Homo sapiens: one gene and its partner. The protein of the gene in region 2 interacts with the protein of the main gene of each other region in a pairwise test. Each region holds a gene or a part of one and is shown on either strand. Other genes may lie near its edges.

Region 1 (8,900 bases), on a different chromosome or scaffold from region 2:
AAAACAAGATTGGCAATTCTTCATAATAATAGACATTTATACAGATTTGTATTTATAGTTTTTTTCTTTTTCTGCATCTACAGGTTTGACCCTTTTATGCATGTAACTTCACAGTATAAAGGAAATCCAAACAATGTCTCCCTTCTCTAGTTTATTCCGCTTACCCCAGTCCTCCTAGGCTTCTGTGAATTTCAGAAAGCAAAAACAAACAAAAAAAAAACTTTTTGTTCAAGGCGATTTAAAAAAACAACTTCACAAGATAGGGAGAATTGTGGTGTGCTTGTCACATGTTACCAGTGGTAACAATTTTAATGACAAAAAAATCCACTAATTCCAAATGCATAAACAAAACTACATTATTTATCTACAGCCAGAAGGATATGGAAATTTAGAGGTAAATGAAACATTTTAGTCAGGCAATGTAAGACCTTACAGAAACTGGAAGAGAAGTCCCCTTCTCTTGGTAATTCTTTTTTTTTCTTTTTAAAGCTGGGATATCTTACAGAGGAAGGAAAAATTAACCTTTTTTACTTTCTTTCTCACTTTTTAAATCAGCCAAAGTCAAGCCCGTTTGCCAACCTGCATGTCCATGCCTGTAAGCCCTTCTCTTGGCCAAGGAAGAAAGGAAGAAAGAAAAAAGAAACCCAGGGGCCTGTATCCCCTGATTAAACACAGCACAGCACTCCAGGCAGACATGCCCGGTGGCGGCTCCTTTGCACCATTGACCTCAGGCCAGACACCTCAGCGCCAACAATGGGACCTCGGCCTTCCGGCTAGGTTTGCCCCAGGCTGGGCAGGAAACCAGCTCGGCCGAAGACAGGGGCCATTTCGAGCAGTGGGACCCCAAGACAGCAAACCCAGCCCAGTCAGGACTTGACACTTAGGACAATATCTATCTCTATAGAATTTTAGCATGATATGGCTTTTTCCCCCAGAAAACAACAAATAAACCAGCACCAAGCAAACACAAAGAAACAAAAAGTCAGAACAAACCAGCCCTGCACAGATGTAACGGCCCAGGAGATGGCGAGTGTGGGAGGGAGGAACAGGGCTCCAGCACAGGTGCGAGTTCCTGGGCAGAGCCTGAAGACAGAGGGAGGGGACCAGCGCTCGGGAAGTGAAAAAACCGCGTCGCCTGGAGATTCATCAGGAAAAATTAAAGTTGGCTGTGAGCTCCCGGATCCGGTTTTCTCGATTCATTTTCTTCAGTTTCATCCTGCGGTTCTGAAACCAGATTTTCACTTGTCTGTCCGTGAGGTGGACGCTGCGGCTAATCTCTAGGCGCCGCTCTCGAGTAAGGTACATATTGAACAGAAACTCCTTCTCCAGCTCCAGTGTCTGGTGCTTCGTGTAGGGGCAGCGCTTCTTCCGACCACTCTTTGCCGTGAGCCAGTTGGCTGCGTTTTCACCTTTGGAATTGCCTGGCATGTAAGAGAATAAAGAGGGGATGATTAAGTCGAGGCCACACGGGCTGCCCGCGGGGGTGAATTGCCTCCGTTTCTCCCATAAGAGAGATGTCCCAAGTCACAGAGAAGAGAGTCGTGCCCCCGTTTTTGGCTTGCTGAGAGCAAGCAGTTCCTCCAAAAGTCATGACAAAAATTGAGTGGGCCTTCAATCTACATGACCCTTCCAATTTACATTTCCCCCACTTTTCCAAACACCTGTTTTAGCGCTAAGCCGTAGATGCTTGCAGAAGGAAAGGCCTGGGAGGGCAGGCTGTACATCTTGAACTTAACGCTTTTCTTTGCCTCTTGCCATATGGCAGACAAGCATTTCCTGTAGCCCCCAGGCTAGGAGCGCGGGGTGCTTACTTGGAAGATGGGCCAGGCAGCTTGGCTGTCTCACCCCAGGGCCCTGATTGCCCAAGACTCGATAAGGGGAGAAAGAAGGGCATCATTGGTCCAATGGGGAAGGCAGGAAAAACCGATTCGGGGGTCAAGGGCCCTCCCTCAAGTTTCTCCAGGAGCCAGGGATAGATAGCTGGGCGATTCCGAGGTCCAGGGGAAGGGAAATGGCCCTTCTCTGGCTCTCAGCTCAGGGCCCCCCGCTTCCAGGCCGGATTTGCCTTTTCTTCTTCCCGCAACGAAGATTCCCGCCCCTCAGCAACTTTGAAAAAAGCATGGGGGATCGTAAACTCGAACTTCGCCGGTTAATGGGCTTATTTATTGGCGCTGGCGGCTGCTTATTTTGGATGCCTTACAAACATCCGCGCTATCTGCGGGCGAGCTACTTTCCCTCCCTCCCCCTCCCCCCGCGTGGGCCGCGCCGCGCAGGCTGGGCAGGGACCAGGGCTCTGGGTCCTCCCGGCCACAGGAAAGAGCGCACAGGAGGGGGCCTGCTCGCTGGTGTCCTCGTCCCTAGTCAGGGGGAGCTGAGGCCAGCGCCGAGGACGTCTTGCTGTGGGGCGCTAAGCCGGACATGAATTTTACTGCGTCCCCACGCCCAAATATTAAAAAGCAAGTTCACAAGGTCAGCCTGCCTGCAGCTTGGGCCAAGGCCGGCCGGCTGCTGCGCGGGCTCCTAGTTTTCTGATCCTTCTCCTCCTTGTGTCTGCCTGTCTGCCCGCCTGACTGCAGCCCTCTGCAGCCCTGCTTACCCAGGGAATCCTTCTCCGGCGAGGCTTTGCTGCTCTCGGAAGGGGCCGGGGAGAGCTCCTCCGCGGCCGAGGACGACGCGTGCGCCTCCTCGTCGCCCTGCGAGCCCCCGCCGCTGCCGCAAGCCAGCGTGGGGGGCGGCGGCGAATCGAGGGCTCGCTCCTTCCGGGCCGCATCGGCCGAGCCGGAGGCTAGCGCGGGCGGGAGATCGAAACCGCGCCCCGGGGGCTGCGCGGGGAACGGGCCAGCCCCGAGTTGCTGCGCGCCGCCGCCGCCGCTGCCATAGCCCTTGGCGGTGCCGTAGGCCTGAGAAAGGCGGAAGTAGCCAGGCACTGGCACCCCGCTGGAGGTGCCCAGGGCGCAGCCGTCGGGCGGCGGGCCCCGCGGGAAGGGAGCCAGTTCGGCGGCGGTGGCCGAGACTTTGGGGCATTTGTCCGCCGAGTCGTAGAGGCAGTAGGAGCTCTCTTCTTTGATGTTCTGCGCGAAAGAGCACGAGGTGGCCTGCGGCGCTGGCTGGGGTGGTTGCGGCGGGGGCGGCGGCTGCTGCTGGGGCGGCGGCGGCGGCCCGTCAGGCGGCTCCATCCGGCAAGACCGGGGCGCGTCTAGCCACAGGTCTATGGGCGAGGGCCCGTAGCCGTGCGCCCCGGGACCTAGACCCCCGCCACCGCCACCGCTGCCCGGCGACGCTGCCTCATTGCGCTTGCCGCCCAGCGTGGGGAAGAGCCCGCAGCTCTGCAGCCCGTAGGGCAGGTCGGCGGCGGGCGGCAGGTAGACCCCGCCGTGGGCGTAGTAACCGCCACCGCCGCCGCCCCCCGCGCCACCACCACCGCCGCCTGCCTCGCCTCTGCCCGAGCTGATGAGCGAGTCGACCAAAAAAGAGTTCGCGGCGGGGCTCTCCGAGCATGACATTGTTGTGGGATAATTTGGCGAAGGGAGCAGATAGCCCTTTCTGGCTGACATTTCTTGTGCAAAACATGCTGAATACGATTAGCAATCCCCCCGCACCGCGGCGGGCGCCCGCAGCCAATCCCGAGCCAGAGTTTCCGCGCGACCACTCCCAGTTTGGTTTCGTAGGCGCGGGGCCGCTCTCCGAGGGCGCCCTCAGAGCCCGCGATTGATATAAATATGTAATCTGTATTGATGGGCCAGGAGACGCACCCCGACACCTTGGCCCGAAGGCCGGGAGCTGTGGGGGCTGCCCCAACGTGGCTGGTGGGGGGCCTGGCCATTGGGCTCGCCCCGCCCCTACCCGGACGTGAGCCCCATACCGGGGTCCCTTAGAAGGGCCCTTGGGCCCCGCGCAGTTAACAAGTGGGGTGTTTATGGTGCGCGCCCAGTCTGCCTTGGGTGCTCACCATCCCTGTCGCAGAAGCTGCCACTAGTCCCCGGTGTACTCTAACCACTGAAGCGGCCGTGTCGGGGACTCACGCGCTTCCCATTCAGCTCTGGATCTGGAACTGGCCCCTTGTCTGAATTCTGCCTCCTCAAAAGTGGCGAACCTGGCCCTATGGCCGTCAGGATCCTCAGAGTGTCAGGAGCCCAGAGTGAACTAGAAGCTGACTTGCCTCTACTTCCAGTATCCACAGATTTTTCCCCAAAATGCAGTGGTTGTTCCCTAGCCCCTAACCCCCAACACTTTTCTCCCCTAGTCCGTTGATCCAGTTAGGATCTTCTCCTCTGGTGTTGTGCTCACCCGGCTTGCCTTCTCTACAACTCCTGTCAGTGGACTTTGGTGGGCTGGCGGGACTGGGGGTGGGAAGCGGCTGCCAGCCTTGATGGAAAGACGGCCCCACTCCCACTCCCAAGGCCAGAGCCAGATCCAAGCATCCCCTCATCACCTAGGGAAGACTCTAAGCCCACAGTCATTTCGGGGAAGTAAAATGCTGGCCTTGGGGTCCTTGGCTGGCCCAAAGTGAGAGACTTGGAGGGGTGTGCCCGGTGTACACCTCCGCTGCTTTATGTTCCTGCTCTCCTGTTAGCTTTGGCACTCATATGCTCCTGGAGGCTACAACAAGAACCAGTGTCACTACACTCCTACCTCTCTGTCCCCTCCCCTCTTCCCCTCCCTCCCATACCCTCAGCTAGGGCAGTCCTTGCTCCTGCAGTGTGTGCATTTTAACGAGGCCTCGGTGAGGAAATCCTTTCCCTGCAAGGCCGGGCTGGGCTCATGGTCCTGTTATAAGAGCATGTGGAGGTCAGGCCCTTTGCTCAGCAGGCTCAGGGGCTCTGTTTTAGCCAACTGGAAATGGCCGGCCTGGGGTGCTAGCCCCCAAGTGTGAGCCTCATGCTAGTCTCAGGAAATGCAACCTTTTCCGGCCAGATCCAGTGGAGCCCGGGAGGTCGCTGCCTTGCCCCTGGCCCGTGGGCTACAGGTCTCCAGGATACTCTAGGCCTGCCCGCCCCTCCGGCCCCAGTCGGAGCTGGCATTACTGAACGCCGGCATCCCAGGAAATAGACCGCTCAGGCCGCTGCCTTCAGCTGGGAAAGACTCTTGCATCCGGGTCATACGCGGCACTTTGCCTCCTTCCTCCCAGTGTGAATCCAGCCCAAGGTGGAAGAGGAGCCTGAGAGGACCCTGAAAGCGCAGAGAGAGCTGGCTAGGTAGAGCTCCAGCTCTGGCTTCTGAGATTCAAGCAGCTGCGGTCGCTGCGGGCAGTGGCTGCTCCGAGCTCCGGGCCCAGAAGGCCGCTCCACCGCTAGCGCGGCGCTCCAGCCACTTCAACCTCGGCGCCCCACGGTGACCCGGCCGTAAGGACTGAGCATCAGGGTGCGGAGGAGGAGGATGGAGAGAAAAAGAGAGAGATAGAAGGAGAGACGGACAGAGGGAGAGAAAAGAGAGAGAAACAGGAGGGGAGAGAGAATAAGAAAGCCAGTTCTCTCCAGCCTGACAGGGTCTTGAAGCTGCAGCAGCGGCTTTAGAGGGATCAAGACAGGGTCTGTGCCAAGAGATCATTAACTCTCCTTCGCTCTTCGCATGCTCCTGCGCCCAAGGCCAAGGCAAATTCTCTACCCTCTAGGCCCATGAGACGGACGAACCTGAGTGCAGAAAAGCTTCAGAGCACCGCAGCCAGTGGCCCTATCTTTAGCTTCCCGGATCTGCCTGGTCCTTACCCTGCTCACCAGAAGGGTGGAACTGGCTGGGACTGTTGCCCTTAGCAATGCCACCTGGAAATGCCACAGAGCTGGGGGCTGCCTAGGAAGGAAGCTTTGCTCTTCAGCACTGCCCATGCCTCTCAGAAAAGCTGTGTCATTTGGCAAGTGGGTCCCAAGACCTTCGAGGTTTCCTCAAGGATAATGAGCCGTGGCAGGTCAGTGGGCCAGGACCTGGGCCTAGAGTCATGCCTCTCCAGGCTAAATGCAGAAAGCAACTTCCCAGGCCGACATCTGGGAAGGTCCAGTATATATTTGAGATAGTGGAGGCTATACAAATAAAGTAAAAGACAATGATCTTAACCTATCTTTCCTAACCTTTTAGGGAGTCAGGACCCTTCTGGAAAATCCAAGTAAGTTTTGACTCATTCTGTGAAAAATGCATATCTGTATATTCCCACAATTTGATCCATCATTTCGAAGGAGTTCACACACCCCTCAGTCTTTTCCTTGGGTCTTCCAGAGTCCCCCAGTGTCCTGGGACTTGGGGGCCCTGCCAATTTGGCTGGCAAGACAAGCTGGGTGCCCTGCAGCAGACAGCTCAGGTCAGGGCCCCGTAGGGCAGCCAAATGGGCTTCTAGGCTGGATAGAATCCAGGGACCTGCACGTGCCAACCAAGGTTACAAAAGTCAGTTTGTATCGCATCTGCTACAAAAGGCTGCCCCAGCCGAAGAGTAGAGGAGCTGGGAGGCCTGCTATGGGCCTCGCAAGCCGTGGCGTTGGCACTTGGGTCTTCAGTGACCTTTCTGTGGTGAGCCAGATGTGTTTCTTTAGTATGACTTTTTCCCCCTTGTAATAAACCAAACGGGATGTTGGGCTTGAGCTCCTTCTGGCTTTTAAAAAGAGTGTGTAAGCTCATGTATGGCAGCCCCTCTCTGGCCCAGGACTGCCTTCCAACTCCCACCAGGGCTTGCTGAGTGGGAAACGCAGCGAGACACTGCCGGTGAGCTGGCCGGCTGCAGGCGGGCCGGCTGCTGCTGGTTCAAATGAGAGGATACTAACGCAGCAGAAGCTCAAGTTAAACGCCTCCTTGGCCCTCTCAGTTGGTCTCCTAGCCCCCAGCATCCCTGACCGACCCCCAAGGCTCCCATGCTCTCTAGACTTTAACACTGGAGTGTTAGGTTTCTCAATAAAATATTCCATTTATTGAGCGCCTCGGCTTTCCTGAGATTCCCCACCCCAAGAGATGAAGAAAGCGATTCAGTTGTAGTGTGGGTCGGCTTCCAAGCACTTTTCCTCCCTCGTGCTCATTTGCCTTCTTTCTTTTTTGCCATTCTTCCCAGCTACTAAATTTCTCCCTCTCCCTCAGGGTAACTTTGACCTAAATCTTCAGTGCCTGCTTGCCTCAACCAGGCCTTATGCAGCGGTTACACAGTCACCTCCAGAGCCCATGTTTTATTTAGGAGGAAATATTGCCCATTTCTACCCGGGTAATAACCTGCCAGCCCTATGGGGCCAAAGTAAACACCAGGCCCATGGATTAAGGCCTTCGGCAAGGATTAGGCTGCAGTTCACTAGGTACTCCTTCTGAGTAGGCCCTTGTAAGCAGTGAGAAATAAACTATTATGAAAAACAAGTTCCTAATGAAAAGATACCAGGTCCTGAGATCGAAACTGCTAGTAAACAATTTATATCTGGAGGGCACTCTCAATGCTTTCAAGACTCTGAATTATCCAGCGGTGGAGTTGGGCTGCAGTCCCACAGAGGAAAAATAAAGGCTGCTTTTACATATCTGGCTTTAGCAAAAAAAGAAAAAAAAATCAGAGCTTCTCATATCCATGCATTTATGCATAGTTAGAAAATTTTTCCACAAGCAATGATGTTCTTTTCCCATTCATCTTTAAGAATGTCAACATTTTCAGGGATATTTGATGTGTCTGTTTTGAATCTATCAGGTGCAATCTATTACTAAACAACATACTTTTAAAGTTTTCTAAATCCAACCATTAAGATGGCCCTTCCCCTGTTAGGGAAGTGTTGGGGCCTTTTCACACACCCTTTGAATTGCAATATTCTTAGATTTGTTCATAATAAACAGCCTCTGGCCTTAGAACTGGAGGCGGCTCTGGCATTGTAGGGAGGGCTCCCGCTGCAGAGAGCAGCTCACTGGGTGGGCGCTCATTTCTTGCCTTGTTGCTTTGCTCCGTCATAGTTTGGGAGCCAGCCTTCAACAAAGACTAGTAACTATGATAGGCAAAATTTACGCAACAAACAGGCAGTGCCTACTTTCTCTGGGATTCACCCCACTCACCACGCACTGTATATTTGGGAAAAGAAAAAGATGTGGGAAACTAATGGAAAAATAGTAGAAAAAATTAAATATAGGAGAAAGAGGGAATTTGAATCGATCCTTCAAAATGTAATGGAATTTTTTCATTTAAAATGTGTTTGATGACAACCCCAATGGAGTGATTGCTCCGTCAAAATTTATCCTCGGTTCCAGCTTTTTAAAAAAGTATTAGTATTTACCAATACATTTTTGCATATTTGCAAAATATCTTCTACAAAAGATCTAATTTTCATATGTAAGAAATTGCTGCGAAATTGCAGCTGGGTTTATAACAGCGTACTCCAAGTATGCAACACAGAGACTTGTCTGGCACTCTCAAAAATCACATGCGACTTCTCCGAATTGGCCTTTTTCGGAACAAAGGTTTTCTCCAAGCTGCCGGGCAGACATAGAGATGCACCTAGTAGGAAACCAGTGACCTCCAGGACTTCTGCCCCTGGGAATAAGCTCGCCTTAGCGGCCGCAGACTTCTACCACCCCATTGTTTAGAATGGAAACTTTGTTTTCCTCAACCCGCGATCACCTTTTTTTTTTTTTTTGCCCTCCCACAACCCCCTATCGCAGCACAGCTGGAACACTTTCGCCTAGATGCCTCTCATCCCTAGCCCATTCTATTCTGTGTATTTCTACAAAATCGAAAGATTCGCCTTGAGTGAAATGCTGGCGCAAGGAGCTAAAATCCTCAACTTTTCTACTTAGGCCTCCCCCTGCTTTCCAACCTTAGGGAGCAATGGGGTGGGGGCTCCCTACCGCGTCACCCCACAAACCCAGCCACGTTCCCGAGAGCCCTGCTTAGACATCGGCCACCTCCCCACTCCCGCCCCACCAGACTGAAATTGCTAAACTTGTGGCCTCTTACCTTGACA
Region 2 (9,009 bases):
TCTAGGCTGTAGTGTACTATGTAGTGCAGTGGAGCCCACTGCACTCCAGCCTGGGTAACATAGCAAGGCCTTAGCTCTGAAAAAATTAAAAATAAGCCTGGGCAACACGGTGAAACCTTGTCTCTACAAAAAATACAAAAATTAATTGGGCATAGTGGCACATCCCCGTAGTCTCAGCTACCTGGGAGGCTGAAGTGGGAGTGTTGCTTGAGCCCGAGAGGGAGAGGCTGCAGTGAGCCATGATGGTGCCACTGCACTCCAGCCTGGGTGATGGAGCAAGACCCTGTCTCAAAAAATAAATATAAATAAATAGGCTGGGCATGGTGGCTCATTCCTGTAATCCCAGCACTTTGGGAGGCCGAGGTGGGCGGATCACAAGGTCAGGAGTTGGAGACCAGCCTGGCCAACATGGTAAAACCCCATCTCTGCTAAAAATACAGAATTAGCCAGGTGTGGTGGCAAACGCCTGTAATCCCAGCTACTTGGGAGGCTGAGGCAGGAGAATTGCTTGAACCCAGGAGGCAGAAGTTGCGGTGGGCTCATATTGCGCCACTGCACTCCAGCCTGGGCAACAAGAGCAAGACTCCGTCTCAAAAAAAAAAAAATTTATTTATTTATTTATTTTTATTTTTATTTTTTGAGACGCAGTTTCGCTCTTGTTGCTCAGGCTGGAGTGCAATGGTACGATCTCGGCTCACCGCAACCTCCACCTCCCGGGTTCAAGCGATTCTCCTGCCTCAGCCTCCCTAGTAGCTGGGATTACAGGCATGCGCCACCACGCCCAGCTAATTTTGTATTTTTAGTAGAGACGGGGTTTCTCCATGTTGGTCAGGCTGGTCTCGAACTCCCAACCTCAGGTGATCCGCCCGCCTCGGACTCCCAAAGTGCTGGAATTCCAGGCATGAGCCACCATGCCCAGCCAATGTTTTAAATTTAATTAATTAATTAATTTTTTTGAGATGGAGTCTCACTCTGTTGCCCAGGCTGGAGTGCAGTGGCACGATCTCAGCTCACCGCAACCTCCGCCTCCCAGGTTCAAGCGATTCTTCTGCCTCAGCCTCCTGAGTAGCTGGGATTACAAGCATGCGCCACCGCGCCCAGCTAATTTTGTATTCTTAGTAGAGATGGGGTTTCTCCATGTTGGTCAGGCTGGTCTCAAACTCCCAACCTCAAGTGATCAGTCCGCCTCAGCCTCACAAAATGCTGGGATTACAGGCGTGAGCCACCGTGCCTGGCCAAATAAAATTAATTTTAAAAGTAAGCCAAATATGTATGACAAATCAGTGCTATAGAGAAAAACAAGTGAAAGGAGATAGGGAGTATGATGGTCAAGGAACTCCTCAGTGATAAGGAGACATTTGAACAGGGATGGAAGGAAATGAGAGAACAAGTTAGGGGGATAACTATGTGAAAGGAGTTCCAAGGAGTTAAGTGCAAAGACTCTGAGGCAGAAGGGCTATTTTGTTTCGAAACTGTCTATACTATAAACACTTTAATAACATTTACAAATTTTACATTGAGTCAGTGATTATTTCACTTTGTGAAGAGATTCATTCAAATGTCAATGATCTTATTCTTTGGTTCTAAATGAACCAAAACACAGCTTCACTGGAATGAGAGACATCATAGAATAATTCGTTCTTCTATCTTCTCCAAAGCAAGAGCCTTTCAGAAATGTTACTTCCTCATTCTTAACAATATTCAAGACTTGTCTGAGATCTGTCTCCCAAATCAATGTTCTGCCACAAGAAAGTCAAAGCAAAAAATATTTAAATGGAAGAAGGGAGAGGGAGAAGTAGTGTATTAAAATGGAATGAAAGTAAATATACTAATAGAAAATTTACCTTAGGAAGAATATTTAAAAATCTAGGTGTTATAATTGAAAGAAATGTATGAAATGTAAATAGTTAAGGATTACAAAAATAAAGGCCATGTAACAAATTTTCTTTGACAGATTAGCGGTGTTCACTGTTTGACAGTATTCCAAAACAGTAGTTTAATGGTTAAGTAAAAAAGGCATTGAATACTATTTTGATCATTTGTTTATCTTCCAAAAACTAGCTTGTGAAATACCCCAGGTTTCTACTACAAGATGTTAGTGCATATACTAGACATGTAATGTCTATTTGAGGAATAAATGAATTTCAGATTTTCAGGAAGTATTATTTCCCCCATTTTTGTAGAAGCAAACCAACTCTTCAAGTACTCACTTTTAAAATTAATAATTACATGCAAGTATAATTAGTCAAAATAATACGCGATTAGAGCAAAGTCATGGTAGAAATGACCATGACTAAACTTTTAGCTTTTCTAGGCTTGTAACTGCATTACTATTTAATAAGCAAAATAATTTTCAACTTAACCCATGTCTATCACTAAGCAAATCAAAACAAAAAGTGATCCATTGCTCCTTCCATAGTTTGGTAATGGTTCAAAATGGTAATACGGTTCAACTCACTATTTTATATCCAAAAAAATCTAAGCTCCTCCCAAGGTGACTCTGAGTCTAAAAATTTGAACATGTAATCATCACTTTGTGTGGTATAATAATGATCTCATTTACATATAAAATAGATTTAACATTCTGAAATAATTTTACATTTAATTTGTGTAAACTCTGTAGGTAGTCTTCTTGAACTGTAAGTTCCGTGAGGGCAGGGATCTCTAGTGCAGCCCTTTACACTGAAAGTCCAGTTAGTAATATTTCTGCTGTTTCTGGTAAGTCAATATAAACAATGTTTTTAAATTATTTACTTACCAGCTAAAAGACGCATAAAATAGTTGAATTTCTATTTTAAAGTGTGATTTCTTTTTCAGTTAAAAAATGTACACTAAAGTTCAGTAAAGCTGGCAGATTCAGCAGCATGCTGAAGGACAGTTACTAACTGGCAGAAAAGTTACAGCAGCCCTTTTAAGAAGGATTTAAAATACTGATCATTAATACGTAAAAATGCAAAAGTTTAGAAACAAAGAATGACACTGGAGATAGTACAATAAATATTCATGCAATTAAGCTGTTTTCCAAGGAGCGGTCCCCACAAAATATGGGGGAAAAAAAAAACCTTCAGAGAATGCAATATCTGAACTGATAAGGAGCTCAGCATGTTCCAAGGCACTCAGACTTAACATTATCTCACCTGTCTGTCACAGCAACTCTGTGGCGTAATTTTATGAATGGGAAAAACTCAGGATCAAGAGGTTAAGCGACTGGCCCAAGGTCACTCAAGGAATCAATGGTGCAGCTATACCTAGAAGGGTGCACTTCACCTGATCCTTCCCACTACATAAGCCAGCTCCCCGACTGAAGCATTAGGACAGCGGAAAAGCAGGGATCAGACTCTGTGAGTGTCCCGCACTACTCCTATCCTGCCAAGGAGGCGCGGGCTTGCCTTTGAAAGCCTTCCCTAGCAACTCAGCCAGAGAGGAGGAAGTTGTGCCCGAGGCAGGCCACTGATCAGCCCAGCAAAGTGACAAGGATGACAGGCGCAGCCCCCAAAGGACCAGCCGGCATTCCCAGGAGCCCTTCCAAACCCTGCGACGGCGAGACTGGTCTCAGAAACATCTGAAAAACCTCCCAGTAAGTTTCGCCCCCTCCTGGACGTGAGGAACCAGCTGGGAATGAGCCAGAGGTCGGCCAGCCACCCGAGCCAGCCATGTGTCCAACCCGTCACGCCCGCCCCGCCTCAGCCGGCTCCTCATGCCTAGACCGCAGCCAGAGGCCCAGCTCAGGATCCGAAGCAAAGGCAGCCTTGGCTGCAGCCACCACCACCACACCACACCGAGGCGCCCCGGCGTGGAAGTCGCCGTCAGATGTCCGCCCCACCCTCCTGCTGGGACCCTCAACGACGTCGTCCGCGCCTCCGGCCAGGCCCCGGGGGCTCGGCCTGCCACTTCTGCCCACCCGCCTGCCCGCCGCCACCGCTAGCCGGGCGTCCTTACTTCATTGAGCTGGCGCTCCGCGGCCTCACGCAGGGCTGGGTCCATAGTGCCCCGCAGGGCCTCGATAATGGTGTTGGGGTCCATCGCAGCGCGGACTCGGTCAAACCCGGGGCTCGGGTGCTACTGGGCCAGGAATAGCGCCACTCACTGCGCACATGGACCCGCCGCGCTCCGCAGCGGCAACCGGCGCGAAAGGAAAGAGAAGCGCCAAGGCCCCGGATAGAACCTCTTCGCCTCGGCGTGGAGGCGGGAGATGCTCCGGCGACTTCCTGTGGGCGCGCCTGCGGAGCACTTTGGGAGATGTAGTCCACAAACACAGTCCGCAGCCCACGTGGCTGCCTGAGCTGTCGTTCCTACAGACAAGTCTTTCTGTTCAAAAACGAAAAATGTTCAAGTTCCACAAAAAGAAAAGCAAAACAATCAGTTACAAAAGGTTTCACATACTATATCCACAATGTTCATAAAGGGAGTCAGATACAGTGTGTGGTGCAATCGATTGCTAATGGCTGCGTGATTGAAGGAAACTTTCTGAAAAGCAATTTGAGATGTGTTTCTGATAGCCACTAAAATATTTAAACTGCCGGGCGCGGTGGTTCACGCCTGTAATCCCAGCACTTTGGGAGGCCAAGGCGGGCGGATCACGAGATCAGGAGATCGAGAGCATCCTGGCTAACACGGCGAAACCCCGTTTCTACTAAAAATACAAAAAATTAGCCGGGCGTGGTGGCACGCGCCTGTAGTCTCAGCTACTAGGGAGGCTGAGGCAGGAGAATCGCTTGAACCCGGGAAGCGGAGGTTGCAGTGAGCCGAGATCGTGCCATTGCACTCCAGCTTGGGCAACAAGAGCGAAACTCCGTCTCAAAAAAACAAAACGAAACGAAATGTTTAAACTCTGACCCAGTAATTCCACTTATGAGACTTTATCCTAAGGCAATAACACGGAAGATTAAATGAACTTTATGTGTGAAAGGTTTTTATCACATTACGTATTAGTAATTACCAAATACTGAAATCATGGCTTTTTATTGAGTATCCAAATTTTAGTTGGGACTTCATATAAATCACCTCTTAATGCAGAGTAAAAGCATAATCCCTATTAAAATACACCTTCCTGCCAGGCGCGGTGGCTCACACCTGTAATCCCAGCACTTTGGGAGGCCAAGGTGGGCGGATCACAAGGTCAGGAGATTGAGACCATCCTAGCTAACACGGTGAAGCCCCGTCTCTACTAAAAATACAAAAAATTAGCCGGGTGTGGTGGTGGGCGCCTGTAGTCCCAGCTACACTGAGGCAGGAGAATGGCGTGAATCCAGGAGGTGGAGCTTGCAGTGAGCCGAGATCATGCCACTGCACTCCAGCCTGGGTGACAGAGCGAGACTCTATCTCAAAAATAAATAAATAAATAAATAAAAATAAAAGACACCTTCCTAGCCAGGCGTAATCCTCCTGTTGAGGCAGGAGGATTGCTTGAGACCAGAAGTTCAAGGTGACAGCCTGTTAAGATCGTGCCTATGAGTAGCCACTACGCTACAGCCTGGGCTACATAGCGAGACCCCATCTCTAAAAAAAGAGGGAGGTGGGGGAGAAAGAAAGAAAGAAAAAGTCCTCTTTTATAACAGCCAAGAAAAAGTTTGTTTTAGAAAGGTTAAATAACTTACCCAAGGTCACGTAGTAAGAGGTTCAACTAAGATTTCAAACCTAAGATCTTTGTTTTCAAACTTTCCATTGTTTCCACTAAATCACTCTGCCTCTGAAGAGAAATGTTGAACAATATAGGACTGGTTAAGCAAATAGCAAGAATCCAGTAAATTAAATATTTCACAGCCATTAAAAAATATAACAAAAAAGTATTTATGGAAGGATATAGCTTTGTAACATGGACAAAGACTGAAAAGCAAGGTTAGCAAATGAAAATAATTTATTTTCTATTAACAGGATGGTGAGATTTGGAGTAATTTCCTTTCATATCTGTTATTATTGTAACAAAGTTATATAAACAGATATACTTAAAATTAATTATAAGCCTTCAAATACAATGTGTTAAATGATCACTTATTGTTTTTAATTTACAAAAAAAAGAGAAGGAAAGGCTCACGAAAGCCTTTCCCTGAAGCGGTGGGTTTTGCAATGTTACTACCTTGTATATGCCAGCCACTGTGCCTGGAAGTACTGGAAGTAAGACAGAATTATTCCTAATTTAGGCCGGGCATGGTGGCTCACAACCGTAACCACAGCAATTTGAGAGGCTGAGGTGGGCGGGATCACCTGAGGTCAAGAGTTCGAGACCAGCCTGGCCAACATGGCAAAACCCCATCTCTACTAAAAATACAAAAATTGCCTGGCCCGGTGGCTCACGCCTGTAATCCCAGCACTTTGGGAGGCCAAGGCGGGCGGATTACGAGGTCAGGAGATCGAGATCATCCTGGCTAACACAGTGAAACCCTCTCTCTACTAAAAATACAAAAAAGACCGGGCGCGGTGGCTCACGCCTGTAATCCCAGCACTTTGGGAGGCCGAGGCGGGCGGATCACAAGGTCAGGAGATCGAAACCATCCTGACTAACATGGTGAAACCTTGTCTCTACTGAAAATACAAAAAATTAGCCGAGCGCGGTAGCGGGCGCCTGTAGTCCCAGCTGCTCGGGAGGCTGAGGCAGGAGAATGGCGCGAACCCGAGAGGCGGAGCTTGCAGTGAGCCAAGATCGCGCCACTGCACTCCAGCCTGGCGGACAGAGCCAGACTCCGTCTCAAAAAAAATAAAAAATAAAAAATAAAATAAATAAATAAATAAAAATAAAAATACAAAAAAATTAGCCGGGCGTGGTGGCCGGTGCCTGTAGTCCCAGCTACTCGGGAGGCTGAGGCAGGAGAATGGCGTAACCCGGGGAGTGGAGCTTGCAGTGAGTCGAGATCGGGCCACTGCATTCCAGCCTGGGCGACTGAGCAAGACTCTGTCTCAAAAAAAAAAAAAAAATTAGCCAGGCATGGTGGTGCTCACCTGTAATCCCAGATACTCAGGAGGCTGAGGCAGGAGAATCACCTGGACCAGGGAGGCAGAGGTTGCAGTGAGCTGAGATCGCACCAGTGCACTCCAGCCTGGGCAACAGAGCAAGACTCCGTCTCAAAAAAAAAAAATTTACAAATGAAGAACCCGAGGCTCAGGCTACTTAAATTGTGAGGAGTCAGAAAGTTTTCATAATAATAACCTGTAAAAAGTGTAATAGTGTTACAAATACAATCTGTTTAAGAATTTTCCTCTCCCTGAATTGTTTGAACCCGGAAGGCGGAGGTTGCAGTGAGCTGAGATCGTGCCATTGCACTCCAGCCTGGGCAACAAGAGTGAAACGCCGTCTCAGAAATAAAAAGAATTTTCCTCTCCCTGCTCCACTGCTCAAAGTGAAGGCCTTGAAAACAGGCTTATGTTCTATTGACCTTTGTATCCTCACCTCCTACCACAGAGTTAGAATGTAAAGGAGGAGTTTAAAAAATTCTTTAAGTGAATAAATGAAGAAAGGAATTAATAAACTAGTAATGACTTATAGGTGGCTGAGCCAGAATTGAAGCTTCATTCTTCATGATTCAAAAGCTAGTCCTCTTTCTGATATTATATGCCTATTTTAGATTCCAGAATTGACTTGTTTATCACGGAATTGTGAAGATTTTAGCAGAGCACAATGTATATGAAAGAACCTGGCACATAGAAGGTAGTCCAAAAATGTTAGTTTCCTCTCCCTAAAACTGAAAGGGAAAAGAAGTGGTAGTGAAAAATATGGTTTTAAGCTGTAGTGCTGGGAACAGGGAGCCAACGAGGCTTGCAGATCTACAGCTGGCATGGGGCCTGTGTCTCATCCTTCATAGAGAACAGAGCACACTGGGTACAAGATCCTGTCTGGGGAGCCAGCATTCCTGTATCCAAAAAAGGAGCTTGGCCCCAGGGAGCATTCAGGAGCTAGTTGGTAGAGTGATTAGCACACTCAACCTATTTGTAGATTTTAGTTTTATTTTGTCAAGCTAGTGACACAGAGAATGTGACTTACGTGACTGGAAATTTCAGTGTGAACTCCTCTAGGGCAGAGACCACATCCATCTTTTTTGTGGTAGACACAGAAATGAATGAGTGCTCAATAAATAAGTATGAGAAGACTAATGAAAAAAGTGGTTTGTTAAGCCACTGTAAACACAATTACATAACCTTATGGTGTCCCACAATCCCAATCCCCAGCACAGCAGCCAACACAGGTATCTAAGCCTCCTTAGGCAAGGTGAAGGCTGAGAATTCAGAAAAGCATAAACCATAGTCTCAGAGTTGATTTTGAGGTAGGATGAAATTAGACAAAAATTAAGAAGAGATGCGGCCGGGCACAGTGGCTCCTCATGCCTGTAATCTCAGCACTTTGGGAGGCCGAGGCTGGCAGATCACGAGGTTGGAGAGTTAGAGACCACCCTTGCCAACATGGTGAAACCCCATCTCTACTAAAAATACAAAACTCAGCTAGACATGGTGGCGTGCACCTGTAGTCCCAGCTACTCAAGAGGATGAAGCAGAAGAATTGCTTGAACCCAGGAGGTGGAGGTTGGTTGCAGTGAGCCGAGATCACACCACTGCACTCCATCCTGGCGACAGAGTGAGATCCGTCTCAAAAAAAAAAAAAAAAAAAAAAAAGAAGAAGAAGAAGAAGAAGAGCTGGGCCTGACTCAGTGGCTCACACCTTTAATCCCAGCACTTTGGGAGGCCAAGGCAGGTGGATCACCTGAGGTCAGGAGTTCAAGACCAGCCTGGCCAACATGGTGAAACTCCATTTCTAGTAAAAATAAAAAAATTACCACAGTGTGGTGGTGCGTGCCTGTAATCCCAGCTACTTGGGAGGCTGAGGTGGGAGAATCTTTTGAACCTGGTAGGCGGAGGTTGCAGTGACCTGAGATCGCACCACTGCACGCCAGCCTGGGAGACACATTGAGACTCCATCTCAAAAAAGAAAAAAAAAGATAGTTATACCATAAGGGAATGGAAAGAATTAGTGTTCCCTTTACAGGCCCCCATTGGGGCTTTTGTGGGTAAATGCCAATGACG

The links.
Region 1: the proteins of IPO7 (region 2) and HOXA10 interact in binary tests that used the Homo sapiens proteins (3 or more experiments, as listed by UniProt).

Annotation. Positions count from the first base shown.
Region 1 is NC_000007.14:27,170,753-27,179,652, forward strand, and holds the start of HOXA10 (homeobox protein Hox-A10), read right to left. Parts: upstream 3,569-8,900; 5' UTR 3,555-3,568; coding exon 2,597-3,554; intron 1,422-2,596; coding exon 1,147-1,421; 3' UTR 1-1,146. Other genes in the region: HOXA10-HOXA9 readthrough, read right to left, coding at 8,894-8,900. UniProt on the Homo sapiens protein: Sequence-specific transcription factor which is part of a developmental regulatory system that provides cells with specific positional identities on the anterior-posterior axis. Binds to the DNA sequence 5'-AA[AT]TTTTATTAC-3'.
Region 2 is NC_000011.10:9,379,778-9,388,786, reverse strand, and holds the start of IPO7 (importin-7), read right to left. Parts: upstream 4,136-9,009; 5' UTR 4,024-4,135; coding exon 3,940-4,023; intron 1-3,939. UniProt on the Homo sapiens protein: Functions in nuclear protein import, either by acting as autonomous nuclear transport receptor or as an adapter-like protein in association with the importin-beta subunit KPNB1.